2 separate regions of the Homo sapiens genome follow, and region 2 is linked to region 1. Evidence: fine-mapped expression QTL. A gene starts in region 1. The other region holds a variant in brackets. All regions are shown on one strand. Distances are between the middles of the regions. Region 1 holds the start of MAN2B2 (mannosidase alpha class 2B member 2). Region 2 overlaps MAN2B2 (mannosidase alpha class 2B member 2).

Evidence for each region. PIP is the estimated chance that this variant, and not a neighbour inherited with it, causes the effect.
Region 2: its variant is fine-mapped to the expression of MAN2B2 in whole blood (INTERVAL, PIP 0.93).

Annotation. Positions count from the first base shown.
Region 1 is chr4:6,571,559-6,581,064 of GRCh38, forward strand. MAN2B2 (mannosidase alpha class 2B member 2) reads left to right here and starts at 3,631. Exons shown (of 19, transcript NM_015274.3): 1 at 3,631-3,790; 2 at 5,020-5,166; 3 at 6,835-6,940. The coding sequence starts at 3,653. It overlaps LOC105374365 (a long non-coding RNA gene), which reads left to right. Exons shown (of 3, transcript XR_925098.3): 2 at 1,951-2,049; 3 at 2,633-2,780. RefSeq lists enhancers at 1,827-2,595, 2,596-3,363, 3,364-4,132 and a silencer at 3,421-3,880.
Region 2 is chr4:6,617,050-6,626,555 of GRCh38, forward strand. MAN2B2 (mannosidase alpha class 2B member 2) reads left to right here. Exons shown (of 19, transcript NM_015274.3): 17 at 331-443; 18 at 2,878-2,995; 19 at 4,139-6,313. The coding sequence ends at 4,236. Among named protein-coding and RNA genes, the nearest start is that of MRFAP1, 19 kb to the right of the region's middle. RefSeq lists a silencer at 5,401-5,594. The variant G/A (reference allele first, on the strand shown) is at 4,556.

The DNA of each region.
Region 1 (9,506 bases):
GGATCTGAATGAATAATCCAGGAGGGGGTTGTGAGTATCACCTTCAAGCCTGAGACTAGCTGCAGCAAGAGCTCACGCAAGAGCCTTGAGGAAAGTACAAATGAAACCCTACACAGCTGTGATACAGTGGGCAGGAGAGAAAATGACATGAGGTCTCACATGTTGTTGTAGTCAGATGGGGGGCTGGAGCTGAAACAGCATGGTGATCTTGAGCTGCTCCCTGTGGTCTGCCCCATGTGGGCTGGTTGGGCTTCCTCACAGCATGGTGGCCTCAGGGTAGTTGGACTGCTGACAGGGCAACTCAGGCCTCCAGGCACGAGTGCTCCAGTGAACATGGATGTCATGGAAGTCACACAGTACAACTTTCACTACATTCTCTTTGTAACAAGTGTGTCACAAGCCCGCCCATGGGCCAGGCACAGTGGCTTATGCATGTAATCCCAACACTTTCGGAGAATCCCTTGAGGCTAGGAGTTTGAGACCAGCCTGGGCAACATAGAGAGATCTTGTCTACAAAAAAGAAAAGAAAAATTAGTTGGGCATGGTGGCATACACCTATAATTTCAGCACTTTGTGAGATGGTGGTGGGAGGATGCCTCGAGCCCAGGAGTTCAAGATCAGCCTGGGCAACATAACGGGATATTATATCTAAAAAAAAAAGAAAAAAAAAAGTTTTCATTAGCCAGGCATGATGGCACATACCTGTGGTCTCAGCTACTCAGGAGGCTGAAACAGGGGGATCACGTGAGCCTAGGAGTTTGAGGCTGAAGTAAGTTAGGAGTCCACCACTGCACTCTGGCCTGGGCAACAGAGCAAGACTCTATCTCTAAAAAACACAAAAATTAATAAAATAAAAAACAATAAATAAACAAGATTCAATGAGAGGAGACATAGACCCTATCTCCTAATAGGAAGAATGTCAAGATCATATTGTAAATCAAAAATAAAATTATAAGCCCCAGCTGAGAGAATGGACCCCCTGTCGGCCAAGGGGACCCCAAAGAAACCCAAAAAACTAGTTCAGGCCATGATGGGAAGTGGGAGGTCACACATGCCTCATCATAGCCTCCTCCCTTTAAGTTTCGGCACAGCTGACCAGCATTAACATTAACATAGAGATCCTCCTAAGACTGACAGAACACTTTTGTAGCAATCAGATACCCGATTCTAACATGACTCTGGTATAGCAACACACGACAGAGAGCAGGCCCTAAAGGAAATCAAAGTATTTTACCCCAAAATAAATTTTCTTTGACATATTTTGAAATGGACTTGCAAAGTCATCTCTTGTGGGGGAAACTTGCATTCTGTAGAGAATCTCCTTACTTACTAGCTCTTTTCCAGAGAGTCTGATACCTTTTAAGGTCCCCAGAGACATGCACATCTATTCTCTCTGAAGCCTGCTAACTGGAGGCTTCATCTATGTAACAAGAACCTTAGCTTCCACATCCCCATTGTCTTAACTCAAGCATTTCTTTCTGCCGACTCCAACTCTTCAGGTAAAGCTTAACTCTTTTAACCAATTGCCAATCAGGAAATCTTTGAATCCTCCTCTGACCTGGAAGCACCACCCACCCACTTCAAGATGTCCCACCTTTCTGGGCCAAACCAATGTATACTTTACATATATTGATTCATGTCTTTGCCTGTAACTTCTGTCCCCATAAAATGTATAAAGCTATAGCCCAACCACCTTGGGCACCTGTTCTCAGGACCTCCTGAGGCTGTGTCACAGGCCATGGTCACTCCTATTTGGCTTAGAATAAACGTTCTGAGATATTTTAGAGTGTGGCTTTTCTCGTCAACCAAATTCTACAAAGAGCTTGGGGGGTGGGTAATGTTGTGGAGCCCATCTTTGGCAGATACAGTCTGCCAAAGATTGTGACACTGCCTTATCGATAAACTCAGTGGCTTAACACAATTAAAGCTTATTTCTCCCTCTTGTCACAGCTCTTTGGGTTCCTCATGGTTCCATGTGGTTCTTCAGAGCCTCCATTGGTGGCTCTAACCTCCCTGAGGTCCTCGGAGTGCCCTCCACTGGAGCAGTGGGTGAGTAAGAGAGCAGGGCTCACCCACAGGAGGTTGTTAGGGGCCAGCCTGGAAGAGGAGCACAGTGCCCGCCCCCACCCATCCCATTGACTAGCACTTAGCCACGTGGCCGCACCTGGTTGCAGAGGCTGGAGAGTGGAGCCCAGCTGTGAGCCTGGCCGGTCATGGGGACATGTGTTAGTGAGTACTGTCCACGTCAGGCTCAGACCATCTGACCTGAGGCTATGGGGATGCAGGGGTCCCCAGGGGGTGGACAGGACAGAAGGAGGAGGGAGACCTGCTTGGAGAACCTGTTCTCAGTTTCCATTTGTTACATAATGGACAAGAGGACCAGCACTTTTGCTCAGAGCTGCAGCTCTGGTTCCGCTAGGAAATGCCAGGCAGGGGCACAGCCAAGTGGTTCTCAGACAGTAAACCCCAAGCCACAGACCCTTGCTTTCTTGGGCAGGGAGTAGTGGACAGGGCTGACTCCAGGCAACAGTCCCAAACAGGCTGCACCAATGTGACCGCACCTCCCCTGAGTGCAGGCAAGGGGTGCTGTGCTCACGCTCTCAGCCTGGGTGCATCCTTACTTTGTTCACAGCTCCTCTATCGGACCCATTTCACTGAGGCTCAGCGAGGTTACCTATGTCGCCCCAGGTCACCATCCAGTAACCCAGAAAGCTTCTCTTGGCTCCTCCACTAACTGCGTGATCTTGGACAAGTCAGTTACTGTCTCTGAAAGCCAGTTCTCCTCCTTAAAATGGAGACAGTTGAGCCAGGCATGCTGGTTTATGCCTGTAATCCCAGCACTTTGAGAGGCGGAGGCAGGAGGATCGCTTGAGCTCAGGAGTTTGGGACCAGCCTGGGCAACATAGTGAGGCCCCCATCTCTATAAATTTTTTTTTTAATTAGCTGGGTGTGGCAGTGTGCCCCTGTGGTCCCAGCTACTCAGGAGGCTGAGGTGGGAGGATCACTTGGGCCCGGGAGGTCAAGGCTGCAGTGAGCCCTGATCGCGCCACTGCACTCCGGCCTGGGAGACAGAGTGAGATCCTGTCCAAAAAAAAAAAAAGGAGACAGTCCCATAACAAGCCCCCCATGGCGCCGCCCAGATGGGGTTTCGACGCCAGGGAGAGGAGGGAAAGGGTTATCAGGGAAGGTTCCTGGTGGCAGAGCTCACAGGGTCCGTGCTGAGCCGAATTTTGCACGGTAGCCTCAGAGTCCCGGAGCCGAGTCCAGAGGGCGGGATGCAGGTATTGCGAAGAGGCACACGCTCCGAGAGGAACCACCAGAGCGTGGGCTTTGGGCGAGGAGGGGTCTCCTCTGGTTGGGGGAGATCTGGCAGGCTTGGGGGAGATGGGGCTGAAAGGATGGACAGGGAGGGAAGGCCAGAAAGCTGGAGACGGGGATGGAGAGCTAAACCGCAAAGAGCAGGCGCCCTGCCCCGCTGAGGGCCCCGCGCCTCCAGCTCCTCCTTCCCGAGCTTCCCGGGGTCGGCGTCCAGCCGGCAACCAATGGGCCCCGCCCCCGCCCGCAGCCAATGGGCCGCGTCCCCGCCCGCGCGGCCGCCCCGCCCCTCGCGGACCCGGAAGTGGGCCTGGCACCTTCCCGGCCTGCCGCAGGGATGGGGCAGCTGTGCTGGCTGCCGCTGCTGGCACCGCTCCTGTTGCTGCGACCGCCAGGGGTCCAGTCCGCCGGCCCCATCCGGGCCTTCGTGGTGCCCCACAGCCACATGGACGTGGGCTGGGTCTACACTGTGCAGGTAGGTGCCGACCACGCCCCGCGCGCCCCTGAGGCTGCAGCTTCCCTCTCCCCGCGGGATCTGAGTGTGGGTTTGCGTCCCGGGGCCCGATGCCGGCGCAGAAGGAGGCTCAGTGGGTTCAGGACCCCACGCTGCCATTGACTGGTTGCGTCGCTAACTTCGGGCCAGTCACTTCCTGCCTCTGAACCCCCATTTCCCCTTCTGGAGGGTGGTGCAGATTGGAGGGACCCCTGCATTCCCGGCTGGGGAGGGGCTTGGGGGTTGACAGTGGTAACCCATTTTCCAGGGAAGCCTGGAGCAGGAGAGGGTGGGGCTGGCTTCAGAGCAGGTGGATGTCAGGTGCCCGCTGGGAAGGGGCCGGGCTGGTCCCCTGCGGGGCTGAATATTGGAGGCCAGCTCAGCGTCCTCCGCCCCCCAGGACAGGGGTGAAGGTGGACCTGTGGTCACCTCCTGGTTCTGCTCAGGACCTTGGGCGAGGGGCTTTGGTCCCTAAGCCTCAGTTTCCCCATCTGTAAAGGGTAGGGGAAGCATGCCCACTACAGCCAGTTTCCAGAGGAGAAAACCGAGGCCCAGAGAGGGTTGCTGCCTTGCCCAAGGTCGCTCGGGAATAACCCTCATGCCTCCTGACTCCCTGCTCGGTGCTCCTTCCATTCATGTAAGCACTCTGTGGGCACCCTGTGTGCAGGGCCCTCGGGACTCGGATGGGAACACACTACAGCTGTGGTCCTTGGAGCTCCCAGCCTTGGGGAGGCAGACGCCTAGACGCCAGGGACAGCCTGGGGAGCTCTTCCTCTCAGCACCAGCTTTCCTCATTTCAGCCCCAGCAGGCCCCTTTGGGGTCACTGGACCACACCCCGACTGAGGCCTAAGACTTTCCTGTGCTGCCCCTCAATGGCACACTCAGGGCCCAGCCCCCCAAATTGCACACTCAAGGCCCAGCTTGCTCACCCCTCTGAGAAACTGTCCCTGACCCCTGGGCTGGGAGGGCACCTGTCTCTGCCCATGTAGGGTGTCTGTTTCCCCGTCCCTCTCCCCCAGGAGAGCACGATCCCATCCAGTGGGGAGAGCCTGGTATGGAGCGAGTGCCTAATAGCTGTGTGGGGGGTGAGCAGCAGGGAAGGAAGGGCAGAGCCCCCAACCCCATGCAGACACACCTGGCGAATGGCAGGGGCCCCAGGGACACTTGGTCTTGTTGGACCGGGGCTGGCATGATGCTGTCCCCTCCCCAGGAAAGCATGCGGGCGTACGCCGCCAATGTCTACACCTCAGTGGTGGAAGAGCTGGCCCGCGGCCAGCAGCGCCGGTTCATCGCTGTGGAGCAGGAGTTTTTCCGGCTGTGGTGGGATGGCGTCGCCTCGGACCAGCAGAAATACCAGGTAATGAGGTCACCAGGTGACACAGTTGGCCCAGTATCCTGGCAAAGACCCAGGTGGAAAACTCAATGGGGCAGTTCTAGCCAGGGCCAGGGCCAGGCTGGCATAAACCACAGGGCCAAAACCCCACCGGGCTATTCACAGCCTTGTTTAGATCAAGGTTCACGGTGAGTTCCATGCCTGGGAGAGATTGCTTTCAATTTAATCCTGAATTTCTGTCTATTCTTGAAAAAACTGCCAGCTCTGGCAACCCAGCTGTGCACTTCCGTGCCAGCTGGCACTAAGTCAGCAGTGCCCCCTGACACCAGGCATCCCAGGTGTCCCCAAGCCCTCACCCTCTTCTCTCATTTGTGTTATCTGCCTGGCCCCCGGGCCCAGGGTCTGGTGACCCTTGATGAGGGTGCGATAGTCCCTGTGGTTTGAGGGTAGGCAGCAGGTTGCTTCATACAGCATGGAGAGTCAGAGTCCCCGCTGCACAGTGAGGCAGCCTGGGTCCCATCCTGCTCCCGCACCAGGGGACACGACTAGCCCCTGCGAGCCACAGATTCCACTTCTATTAAACGGGGGTGACCGCCCCATTGCAGAAAAGTCATGCCAAGAATGAAGCCCTGGCGTGAGCACCCAGGACGATACTCGGGGGTTCTTAGTTTCCTCCCAGGTATCCACCTGCCTTCAGAATAGTTGCTGAACATAAAGTTCAGGGACGCCAAGTGACTTGCTCAAGGGAGTGAAGCGGAGAAGGGAGAGCAGGGCGTCCACCAGGCCCCGCCAGAGTCACGGGAAGGAGCCGGACATCCAATGGCCACTTGATGCTGCCAGATAGTGGGGTTCTTACCTCAAGTTAAAGAGACATTCCAGGTTCAGAGAGGGCACGCCACTGGCCTGCAGTCACACAGCTTGTAAGCGGCAGGTGGGATTCTGAGCCAGGCATGCCTGACTCGAGGCAGGCCTTTCCAGGATATCCTGTGAGCGTCCCATGCTTCTTCAGGTGGACCCCACCAAACCCAGTGGTCTGTCTCCTAGCCCTCAAAGAGAAGCATGGCCTGCATGGCCCAGTGAAGACCTGGACAGGAAACTTGTGGCAGAGCTCCCTGGAGGCAGGAATTGTTGCCTGCTTCATTCACTGCTGAACCCCCAGTGCCTGAACAGTGCTGGTTGTGTAGTAGGTGCTCACTTAACATTTGTTGAGTGAATGATCTACATATAGTGCACCTTAAGAAACAAACCAAAGGCACAGCCTATAAACAGCTGTGTGTACACATACTGAGGTGTGTAGTGTCTAGGGCAACAAAGGTGTTATGTGTGTAGAGACGGGGATGTTAAGCAAATAGGTTAAAAATGGTAGTGATGAGTGAACCTTGGGAAAGGATATGGGAGCTCTTTGTTCTATTCCTGAAACTTTTCTAAAGTTTAGAATTAGTTAATAAAATAAGATTTAAGAAAATCTTATATATACAAATATATATCTCAAATACCACCTGAGGGCTGCATGATTTCTAGGTGGTGGGAACACAGTGTGGACCAGGACAGACAGTGCCCTGCTTTTATAGAGTAAGCAAGGGTGGGGAGTTTTATGCAGGGCGTGTGTGGCGCTGTAGGTGTGTTCCCCACAGACCCAGCCATGCTCAGGAGCCGTAACTGGCTTTTTTCTCTCTGCCTGCCCATGTCAAGGTCCGCCAGCTCCTGGAGGAAGGACGCCTGGAATTTGTCATCGGAGGCCAGGTCATGCATGACGAGGCTGTGACGCACCTTGATGACCAGATCCTGCAGCTCACAGGTTTGGCCACCCTACCCTGCACCCAGGGTCCCTCAGGACCTCCAGTGGGGCTGGGACATGGTATCAGAACCCCCAGGTTCTGAGCTCTGTCTGCCCCTCTTAGTGGGGTCGGGGACCTTAACCAGTGAAAGCAGTGATTTGCTAGTGCCATATTCATGCCTCACCAAGGAAGTTGAATGTAGGGGTTAAGAGCATGGATGCTAGAGTCAGATGGTCTCAATATATCCTGGCTCTGCCAATTCCCTCCTCTGTGACCCTGGAAAGGAATGTAACTTCAGTTTCCTCATAGATAAAATGAGTTTGATGGTAATACCTACCTCAAAGGGTTGTTGTGAGTATTAAATGGGATAATTCAAATAAAGCACTTTAGTAGGATGTGGGTTCCCTAGTAAATGCTCAGTAAGTGTTTGCTGCCTTCCATCACAATTACCACCTTCAGCACCATAATGACCATGACTACTACCATCACCACCACCACCACGATGACCATCACTACCACTACCATCACCACCACCACCACCATCACCATCACCACTACCACCATCACCACCATCACCACCACCATCACCATCACCACCACCACCACCATCACCATCACCAGCACCACCACCATCACCATCACCACTACCACCACCACCACCATCACCACCACCATCACCATCACCACCACCACCACCACCATCACCATCACCAGCACCACCACCATCACCATCACCACCACCACCACCACCATCACCACCACCACCCTTCACCACCATCACCACCACCACCATCACCACCACCATCACCATCACCACCACCATCACCACCACCACCACCATCACCACCACCACCACCACCACCATCACCATCACCACCACCATCACCATCACCACCACCACCACTACCCTTCACCATCACCACCACCACCATCACCATCACCACCACCATCACCACCACCCTTCACCATCACCACCACCCTTCACCACCACAATGACCATCACTACCACTACCATCACCACCACCATCATAACTACCATCACCACCACCCTTCACCACTGCTATGACCACCACTACCACTACCATTACTACCACTACCATCACCACCATCACCACTACCACCATCATCTTCACCACTACAATGACCATTACTACCACTACCATCACCACCACCCCCTAAACACTATCACCATGATCACCACCCATCACTGTCGCCACCACCATCACCACATCCATTACTACCATCCCCTCCACAATCATCATCACCACCACCATGACCATCTCCCTCACCATTGTGTCCACTGTCCTCAGCACCATCACCCACAGTGCCGTGGGGCACTCTACTCACCATTTACCAAATGCCTTTCACAGTGACACCCCAGCCAATCCTAATGGCGGGCTGATGGTGAGGCATGGTGATGCCCAGTTTCATTTTGCAGATGTAGAAACTGAGATCCAAAGAAATGCAGTAACTCTCTCCAGGGTAGATGGCCAGGACTTGAGTCCAGGCCTAGGGACTGAAGCTCCGAGTCCACAGTCACTCCACTACAGCATGGGCCCTGATTTCCCCATTTGTAAAACATCCAGGCAGAGAGCAATGTTGTCAAAGGATGTTTTTGGCACTCTCCCTTTTCTCATCTGTAATCTGGAGTGTTCCCCTGTCTCAGTTTCTTACTGCCTTACATCTGGACTTTGCTCAAACCCTAGACTTGCCCTTCCATGAGAAGGAGGCGTGATGGACACAGCCCTACAGACAGAGCTCCTCCTGTGGCCAGGAGCTCAGCCCCTGCTTGTCCCCCTGCATCCCCACAGGCCCAGAGGTAACAGGGGAGGACAGCAAGGCTCAGAGGGAGCACCTTGCCCTCAGCCGCCTGCTGTGGCTCCCTGACTCCAGAGCCCCTGCTCTTTCACTCCCCCATGTGAAGTGTGGGCAAGGGATCTATCCCAACAGACTTCCCCCACACCCCTTCACAAGCCCACTGCCAGGGAATGTGTGACACTGTAGGCGTGTCCCCCACCTGCCTCCTGCCCCGTGCCAGCGAGGAGGCTCTGGGGCTGTTTCTCACCTGTGCCATTTCACGCAGTGCTCCCCCTCATTCTCCACCCTCCTCCTCAAGATGCAGCTGAGAAGCCCCTCCCGCAGGAAATCTCTGAGTCTCTGCAGTTCTGTGTCACCTCCCCACTTAACCGCTGAACCTCAAGATGCCCCTGGCAGGGACCCCCATCTGACTCATCTCAGCACCCAGCATAGGGTCTGGCCCAGACCACTGCTTACTGGGCAAGGCTGGGCAAGGGGTGGGCGCTGAACTGCCCTGCCCTGAGGGTACCCACCACTGGGGTACCTCGCCTCTGGCCTCAGCCCACCGTGCCTAAGTGCTGATACCCCAGCGCTGACCCTGCAGGTCTGACCTGGCAACTGGAAGCCTCAGGGAAGCTGAGGCTGTGTCGCTCTGGGGCAGGAAGAGCCTCCAGAGACACAAGAGACAGCGGCTGTTGTGAGGCTCCATTTCCAAACCTGTCCAAGCTCATGGGGCCCTCAGGGTACAGACATGTGGGTTTCTTTCATGATAACCACCTTGTTCTAGGT
Region 2 (9,506 bases), 45 kb after region 1:
CTTACATGGTGGCAGGCAAGAGAGCGTGTGCAGGGGAACTGCCCTTTACAAAATCATCAGGTCTCATGAGACTTATTCACTATCACAAGAACAGCACAGGAAAGACTCACCCCCATGATTCAATTACCTCCCACCAGGTCCCTCCCACAACATGTGGACATTATGGGAGCTACAATTCACGATGAGATTTGGTTGGGGACACAGCCAAACCATATCGAGGAGGTTACAGATAGGAAATGGAGCTGAGTGTGTAAAGCAGCGGGTATAGACCAGGGACATTGGGGTTGGTTGATGAGGGTCTTCACTGCCACCTTCCTTCTGTCCCCAAAGGCCATCGAGGGGAAGCCCAGGCTGACCTCCGCCGTGTCCTGCTGCGGCTCTACCACCTATATGAAGTGGGCGAGGACCCAGTCCTGTCTCAGCCAGTGACAGTGAATCTGGAGGTGAACTTCCCCACCCCCATCCAGACCATAAGCCAGGGAAGCAAACCCTAGATGAAGCCCCAAGAAACTGCCTTGGCAAAGAGATCCACGAGGGCTTCCTCCCAAATGGACGCTGGTATGGGCCCCACCCCGCCCTTCTTCATGGTCTTCTGGGTTTGTCAGGTATTACAACTGGCCTGGTTTTTTAGGGTTTTTTGTGTATATGTGAGACAGGATCTCACTCTGTTGCCCAGTCTGGGGTGCAGTGGCACAATCTCAGCTCACTGCAACCTCTGCCTCCCTGGCTCAAGTGATCCTCCCACCTCAACCTCCCAAGTAACTGGGATCACAGGGGCGCGCCACCACGATGGCTAAGTTTTTTTTTTTTTTTTTGAGACCGAGTTTCGCTCTCGTCCCCCAGGCTGGAGTGCAATGGTGCGCTCTCAGCTGGCTGCAACCTCCATCTCCCAGGTTCAAGTGATTCTCCTGCCTCAGCCTCCCGAGTAGCTGGGATTACAGGCATGTGCCACCACGCCCGGCTAATTTTTTTGTACTTTTAGTAGAGACAGGGTTTCTCCATGTTGGTCAGGCTGGTCACGAACCCCTGACTTCAGGTGATCCACCTGCCTCGGCCTCGCAAAGTGCTGGGATTACAGGCGTGAGCCACCAAGCCTGGCCTAGTTTTTTTATTTTTAGTAGAGACACGGTCTTGCTGTGTTGCTCAGGCTGGTCTCGAACGTCTGGCCTCAAGCAATCTGCCTGTCTTAGCCTCCTGAAGTGCTGGGATTACAGGCGTGAGTGGCCTGTATTTTCTTTCTTATTTATTCTGTGGTAAAACTTTTAAAACACAGACAACATCTGTGTAATCCAAAAACAAAACAGATTCCCCATAGAGTTGCTTTGAAAGGTGACTTAGAGTCAGACAATCCAGGGTCCACACCCAGGCCCCTCTACGGGGGCATCTCCGGCACCCCATGCCTCTGGGCCTCAGTTTCCCCCCATGTAAAATGGGGAGAGGTGAGAGTTCTTTGCCCAGAAGGTTGCTGAGAGGCCCTGGCACTAAGGGGCCTCGTGCAGTGTCAGGGCCCCCAGGCCTCGTCCCCTTCCAGGTTCCCCTCTTGGCTGATGTTGCCCTCTCAGCTCTACTATCAGGCGAGGCTTCCGCCACCTGGCCTGCCCACGCTCCCTCCCCAGAAGGCATGACCTGAGCCGCCTCATTTCTTTCCCAGTTTGCATTCTTTCTATTTCATTTCCTGCTCATGGAGAATTTCTGTGAATCTCTGTGTTTCTGCCTTGGGCCTCCTTCGACATCTGAGTCTTCAGGGGAATCCAGAGAAGCCCCAGTACCTTTTCGCCATGATGTCTTACTGGGCCACCCACCTCCTCTTTCATGATCCTCGCCACGGAGGATCCTTTCCTCACGGTCCCTGGCCTGCCTGAGAGCAGGTCTAGGCCATGGCGGGTACCAGTGCCCAGCACAGGGCCAGCCTGCCCTGGGAAGCAAGGAGGCCAGCGTGGGACCTGGAAGTTGGTCATCTGATGCTCCCCCGTTTCACAGATGGAAGCACCAAGGCCCTGAGACAAGGAGACGGTTGGGATGGACACCATGACTCCCTGCCCAACGTGGACGGTGGTGGGGTGGAAAGACCATTGAGTTAGGAACGCAGTGAGTTTGGCTGCAAGTCACAAAACACCTAACAGATGTGCTTAGAACAGAGGACAGAGTGTTTTCTCACCGAACAGGCATGTCCGATGGACCCCAAGCGCTGTCACCGTGGGCCCGATCACTGTCATCTTCCCGCCATCGCCGGCAGACTGGCTTTTGTCTTTTGCCGTCTGCTTGTTTGCGGTCACAAGATGGCACAGGCCTCCCTCATGAGCAAATTTCAAGGCAGGGTAGGGCTCAGCAGTAGTGGCCAGAAAGGCCTTGCCCTAGCGTGGCTCTCTCCCTCCGTCAGCACACAGAAGCTTCTCCAAGAGCCACCCCCAGCCCTCCTGCTCCACAGACTTTTCCAGACCCCTAAGGGCCTCCTGCCTCCCCTAGGTGTAAGGGAGGCTGGGACAAGGCCTATTGGGAAAGGGGGATGGGGTAACTGTGGCTGGCTTCCTCCCTGGACTGGGCACGGGGCCACCTGAGCAATGTGGGGAGAGGAGAACTCCGCGGTGGGGTGGGCAGCTCAAAATGCCACACCTCCCGGGCTGCTCCTCCAGCTCGGCCACCTGGTAAAGCATGCACCTCCCGCTTCAGTGTCCTCATCTGTAAAGTACACGGCCAGTCCTGTCCTCGCAGATGTGCTGTGAGAAGCAGATGAGGGAGCTGTGTCAGGCACCAGGGGAGGACCTGGGCTCCTGAGGACACCGAGTTCGTGGTGTGTCTGCCCTGCTGCTGTCTTGGTTCTCTGCTCAGCTCTGGAACTTGGTGCAGCTCACTCTCCCTCTGCTCCTCTCCCTGCAGGCTGTGCTGCAGGCGCTGGGGTCCGTGGTGGCAGTGGAGGAGCGCTCGCTCACAGGGACCTGGGATTTGAGCATGCTGCACCGCTGGAGCTGGAGGACGGGGCCTGGCCGCCACAGAGGTTTGGGGACCCCCGCTTCAGCTCCCTACCCAGGACTCCCAGCCAGGCTCAGCAGCTGGTCAGACCCGGTGCACATCCAACCATCTGCCTGTCCCGGCCTGTGCGACCTTGCGAGGCTGCTTTCCTACTCTGAACCCGCAGCCCTCCCAAATCTACTACAGTCGGTTAAGAAAGGCTTTGGGTTAGTCTCTGCCTGCCAGGGCTCCACACAGGCGTGTGTGTGCACTTGTACGTGTGCACACGCAGACCACACGCCCTGCCTGTGCCCTGGGTGACAGCTAGGGGCCCAGGGGCTTCTGCCCACCTTGGCCCTGCTGACCTCAGCCCATCAGCCGGTCCCTGCCTCATACGACATGTGCCACCGTGAGCTCCTGCACTACAGGCAGCTTCCAGGCTCCACTCCCTGTCCGCACCATGCCCTCTGCCTGGGACGCACAGGTCCCATTCACTCTGGCCAGCACCTGCTCAAGCTCCCCAGGATGCCTCCCCAGAGTCACCAACCAGGCCAAGTGCCTCCTCCACTCTCCTGGCCCCAGGGGTTTCTTCTGTCCTGTGCAGCTCGTTGTCCACTACACACAGCATGGTGGCGGGTGCATGGTGCACGCTCAGTTGGTGGTGGGAGGAAGGAAGGGACGGAGGGAGGGAGGGAGGGAAGATGATGTTGGTTGGAAAGAAGGAAGGAAGATGGATGAGTGATAGATAAGTGGACGGCTCCCTCCCAAGATCGAAGCCCAACCCCAGGGCATGCCTTCAGGGGAGCCTGGTGAGGCAAGGGCAGACTCACCAGATGGTCTCAGAAAGCTCTTGGGCTTTGAGGGCAACACCCATGAGGAATTGAGGCCACTAGGGCCAGGACCAACCTATGAATTGCCCTCAGGGTGGGCAGAAACGCCAAGAGGCCCACAGGAGTCCTGGCAGAAGGGGATGCCATAGGCCGTTGCCACGGTGGGAGCCACAGCAGACTGTAGCCAGGTGCAGTGTGGTGAGAAGGAGGCTGGGAGCCACAGCAGATTGTAGACAGGTGCAGGAGGGTGAGAGGGAGGCTGGGAGCCACAGCAGACTGTAGACAGGTGCAGGGGGTGAGAGGGAGGCTGGGAGGAGGCATCCCAGGCCACACTGGACAGATCACCTCTGTTCCCCTAGGTGACACCACCTCTCCCTCGAGGCCACCAGGAGGCCCCATCATCACCGTCCACCCAAAGGAAATCCGGACGTTCTTTATTCACTTTCAACAGCAGTGAGCCCTGGGCAGATGCCCCGGCCCCAGGGCTTCCCCCAGGAACTCCATGTAACAGAACAGACCCAGGACAGGGAAAAGCAGTGCGGAGGGATGGGACTGGGGAGTCAGCTGCTCATCTGCAGGCTAATGGCAGGAAATGGTCATATTTGGGGTTTTTCCCTAATTTTTTTAAACAAAAATTACATTACAAGATCCAGGTTCTTCCCCCCCACACTCAATCAAGCCAGCCCTCTCCTCTTCTGTCACGTAAAGGATATTTGGCACACTCATGCGTCATTCATTCACAAAACACAAACCCAGGACTTTCTGCCTAAGGCAGA[G/A]CACAAGACTCACAGCAGCACCGAAGCGCATCTGCCGTCCGGGCCCTGCCAGGCTTGCCAGGCTGCCAGTGGTAACTGTGGACCTACTGCGTGCCACGTGTTTTCATAGACTCATCCCATGCTGGCAACAGCCCTGCAAGGGGCTTGGCTCTGCCACAGGGCAGGAGAGGAAGTTGTAGCGCCTAGCGAGAGTTCCAGCCCCAGACGCCCACCTGTGCCTCAGGGCACCGCCTGCCGAGCAGAGAAGGCACAGCAGCCGTCAGAGTCCATGAGAGGTGAAACCACACAGCAGGGATGTCCAATATCAGAACTATTAATATCAATAAAAGTATAACCTTCCCAGGTCTATGCCCAAGAGAATTGAAAACATCCATCCACACAATACCTGTGCTCCCGCGTTCATAGCAGCATTACTCAAAAGTCAAACGGTAGCAACAACCCAAATGTCCATCCACAGATGAATTAAGACATGAAGTGTGTTCTGTCCATACAATGGAATATTATTTGGCCATAAAAAGGAAGGAAATTCTGACGCATGCCACAGCCTGAGTGAATCCTACAAATATTACGCTAAGTGAAAGAAGCCAATCACGAGTTTATGTGAAATGTCCAGAATAGGCAAATCTGTGTATCAGAGACAAAGCACATTGGTGGTTGCCAGGTACTGGAGGAAGAGAGAAGAGGCATGACAGCTAACAGGGACGGGCTTTCTTTGGAAGATGATGAAATTGTGGAATGATGGTTGCACAACTTTGTGAATATACTAGAAACCAATGAATTAAAAACTTTGGAAGATGAATTTTATGGTCTGTGAATTATATCTCAATTTTAAAACTTTTTTTTTTTTTTCCCGAGACAGAGTCTCACTCTGTCGCCCAGGCTGGAGTGCAGTGTCAAGATCTCAGCTCACTGCGACCTGCACCTCCTGGGTTCAAGCAATTCTCCAGCCTCTGCCTCCCGAGTAGCTGCTACTAGAGATGCACCACTGCGTCAGCTAATTTTTGTATTTTTAGTAGAGACGGGGATTCACCATGTTGGCCAGGCTGATCTGGAACTCCTGACCTCAGGTGATCTGCCTGCCCCGGCCTCCCAAAGTGCCAGGATTACAGGCGTGAGCCAATGTGCCCGGCCTAAACCGTTTTAAAGAGTAAACTGTAAGATGTAGGAAATTATTTGGTACTCTAGGGCTGAAGGAAAGTACCCAGAAAGGACCAGCTTGGAAGGAGTCAGACCTCTGGACAACGTGCAGTTTGGCCACCAGACAGCAAAGACAGTCTCTGGTTTGGCCAGGCAGGAGCTGGGCTGGAGTTGCTGACCAAGCAATAGGCCACCCCTGTGAGGTGGGGTCAGGTGAGCAGCCACCAGAGGCATGGATGTGCAGTGGGAGGTTGAGGCACAAGGAGTGAGGCAGGAGCCCTTTAGAGCATGTGGGCTGCATGAGGCTTGGTTTCTGTGTCAAGAAGACTATGGAGGCTGGGCAGTGGTTCATGCCTTAATCCCAGCACTTTGGGAGGCCAAAGCAACCGGATCACTGGTGGTCAGTAGTTCAAGACCAGGCTGGCCAACATGGTGAAACCCCATCTCTACTAAAAATACAAAGTTAACCGGGTGTGGTGGTGTGCGCCTGTAGTCCCAGCTACTCGGGAGGCTGAGGCAGGAGAATCAATCACTTGAACCTGGGAGGCGGAGGAGACCTCCGCCTCTGCACTCCAGCCTGGGTGACAAGAGTGAGACTCCGTCTCAAAAAAAAAAAAAAAAGGAAGACTACGGAGGCCAGGCGTGGTGGTTCATGCCTGAAATTCCAACACGCTGGGAGCCCTAGGCAGAAGGATCGCTTGAGCCCAGGTGTTCCAGACCAGCCTCGGCAATATAGTGAGACCCCATCTCTACAAAAACTATTCTTTAGACGAGCGTGGTGGTGTGCACCAGTGGTCCCAGCTACTCTGGGGGCTGAGGTGGGAGGCTCACTTGAGCCCAGGAGGTCGAGGCTTCAGTGAGCCATGATCATGCCACTAACTCCAACCGGGGTAATAGAGCAAGACCCTGTCTCAGAAAAAAATAAAGAAGACTATGGAAATGTTATCCCCAGCGCAGCCAGGCTGTAGAAAAATCATGTGCACTGAAAGTACCATCACCCATGCTGACCATCCCCGTCCAGAACAGAAACAGCAAGAGAGCCACTTCCCCCTGCGGTCCCTCCAGCACCCAGCACCCTCAACTGGGAAGAGTGAGAAGAATATAGATGACAGGGGAAAACCCACCCACAATAGACAGAATATTGGCTAAAATCTAACATCCATTTGTTGCTTTGTTGTTATTTCATTTCATTTTACTTTTTTAGACACAGGGTCTCGCTCTGTCACCCAGGTGGGAGTGCAGTGGCACTATCATAGCTCACTGGAACCTCTTAACTCCTGGGCTCAAGTAGTCCTCCCATCCCACCCTCCTGAGTAGCTGGGACTACAAGCATGAGTCACTACACCCAACTAATTTTTAAAATGTTTGTGGAGACGCAGTCTCACTATGTTGCCCAAGCTGGTCTTGAACTCCTGAGCTCAAGCGATCCTCCCACCTAGGCCTCCCAAAGTGCTGGGATTACAGGCTCAAGCCACTGTGAATGGCCTGTTTTTTGTTGTTGTTGTTTGTTTTTTTTTTTTTTTTTTTTTTTTTTTTACAAACCACCACCACCAAACTCCCAATAAACTACGTTGCTCACTGACAATCCCCAACAGGTTTATTGCGGAACTTGACAGGATGATTCTGAAGTGCACTGGGGCTAGGTACAGTGGTTCGTGCCTGTAATCCCAGCACTTTGGGAGGCCAAGGTGGGTGGATCACTAGAGGCCAGGAGTTCGAGACCAGGCTGGCCAACATAGTGAAACCCCCTCTCTAAAAAAATACAAAAATTAGCCAGGCTTAGTGGCAGACGACTGTAATCCCAGCACTTTGGGAGGCCGAGGCGGGCTGATCACCTAAGGTCAGGAGTTCGAGACCAGCCTGACCAACATGGAGAAACCCCGTCTCTACTAAACATACAAAATTAGCCGGGCATGGTGGTGGGCACCTGTAATCCCAGCTACCCGGGAGGCTGAGGCAGGAGAATCTCTTGAACCCAGAAGGCGGAGATTGCGGTGAGCCGAGATCGTGCCACTGCGCTCCAGCCTGGGCGACAAGAGCGAAACTCTGTCTCAAAAAAAAAAAAACACACACACACACACACACACAAGTGCACATCTTCGTCCGTTTGGGCTGCTGTCATAGAATCCCGTACACTTTGGGAGGCCAAGGTGGGCGGATCACAAGGTCAGGAGATCGAGACCACAGTGAAACCCCGTCTCTACTAAAAATACAAAAAATTAGCCGGGCGTGGTGGCGGGCGGCCTGTAGTCCCAGCTACTCGGGAGGCTGAGGCAGAAGAATGGCGGGAACCCGGGAGGCGGAGCTTGCAGTGAACCGAGATTGTGCCACTGCACTCCAGCCTGGGTGACAGAGCGAGACTCCGTCTCAAAAAAAAAAAAGAATACCATACACTGAGTGGCTTATCAACAACAGGAATTTATTTCTCCCAATTCTGGATGCTGGGAGTCCAAGGTGCCAGCAGATTCGGTGTCTGGGGAGGGGCTGTTTCCTGGTCTATAGATGGTGCCGTCTTGCTCCGTCCTCACATGGCAGAAGGGGCAAGGCAGCTCTCTGGGCTCGGTTTCTAGGAGGGTGCTAATATAACAGTACTGAGTCTACCTTAAAGAAAAATTGTGTTTGCTTGAGTATAATTACAGCTTTGCTTACGCTTACACACTATTCATTAAAAACAGCCTCAGGGAAAGAGGACCTTCAGCAGAGATAAGAGAGAAGTGCACTGACCAGCAATCCTGGAAGCGGCTAGCCGCAGGTTTCCACCCACCAGATGAGAATAGTTGGGCTGAGGTCGAGGCAGGAGGATCACGTAAGTCCAAAAGTTTGAGACCAGCCTGGGCAAAATAGGGAGACCCCGTCTCTATAAATAGTAACAAAATTTAAGTAGGTGTGGCACACGCCTGTAGTCCCAGCTACTCAGGAGGCTGAGGTGGAAGGATCCCCTGAGCCAGTGAAGTCAAGGCTGCAATGAGCCATGCCTGGGCAACAGAGTGAGACTGTCCAAAAAAAAAGCAAAACTAAGACTAATCTGGCTGGCCTGGTGCAGCCAGCACTTTGGGAGGCTGAGGGGGAGAGATCATTTGAGCCCAGGAGTTGGAGACCAGCCTGGGCAACTTGGTAAAACCCAATCTCTAAAAAAAATTTTAAAATTAGCCAGGTGTGATGGTGCGTGCCTTTAGTCCCAGCTACTGTAGAGGGTGAGGTGGGAGGATCACCTGAACCTGGGGAGGTCAAGGCTACAGTAAGCCGTGATCATGCTACTGCACTCCAGCCTGGGCAACAGAATGAAACCCTGTTCCAAAAAAAAAAAAAAAAAAAAAAAAAAAAAAAATAGCTGCACTTGCAAAAGGTCACATGACATCCCCGCAAGACAGCAATCGTAACTACCTGCCTGAGACTGCGCACATAGCTGCTGTTCCACAAGAATGCTTTGATCATCATTCGCACTTCCCCAGATTTCCCTTAAAAACGTGCATCTGGAGACACAACTTGGAGAGGTGATCTTTGAACACAAGAGTTCAGTGCCCCTGCCCCCACCTCCCAAGCTGCTGGCTTCTCGAATAAAGCTACCTTTCCTTTTACCAAAACTTGTCTCTCGAATGTCGGCGAGTGAGTGGCCTGAACCCGAGTTCAGTTACACTAATCCCCATAACCTAATCACCTCCCAACATCCCCACCTCCTAATACCATCAACTGGGGGATTAGGGTTCGGTATATGAATTTAGGGGGACAAAAACATTCAGACCAGAGCAAACAAAGAGCTCAGAAGCTGGACCGCGCACACGGAAGCTGATAGAAGAGAGATGGGGCCGGGCGC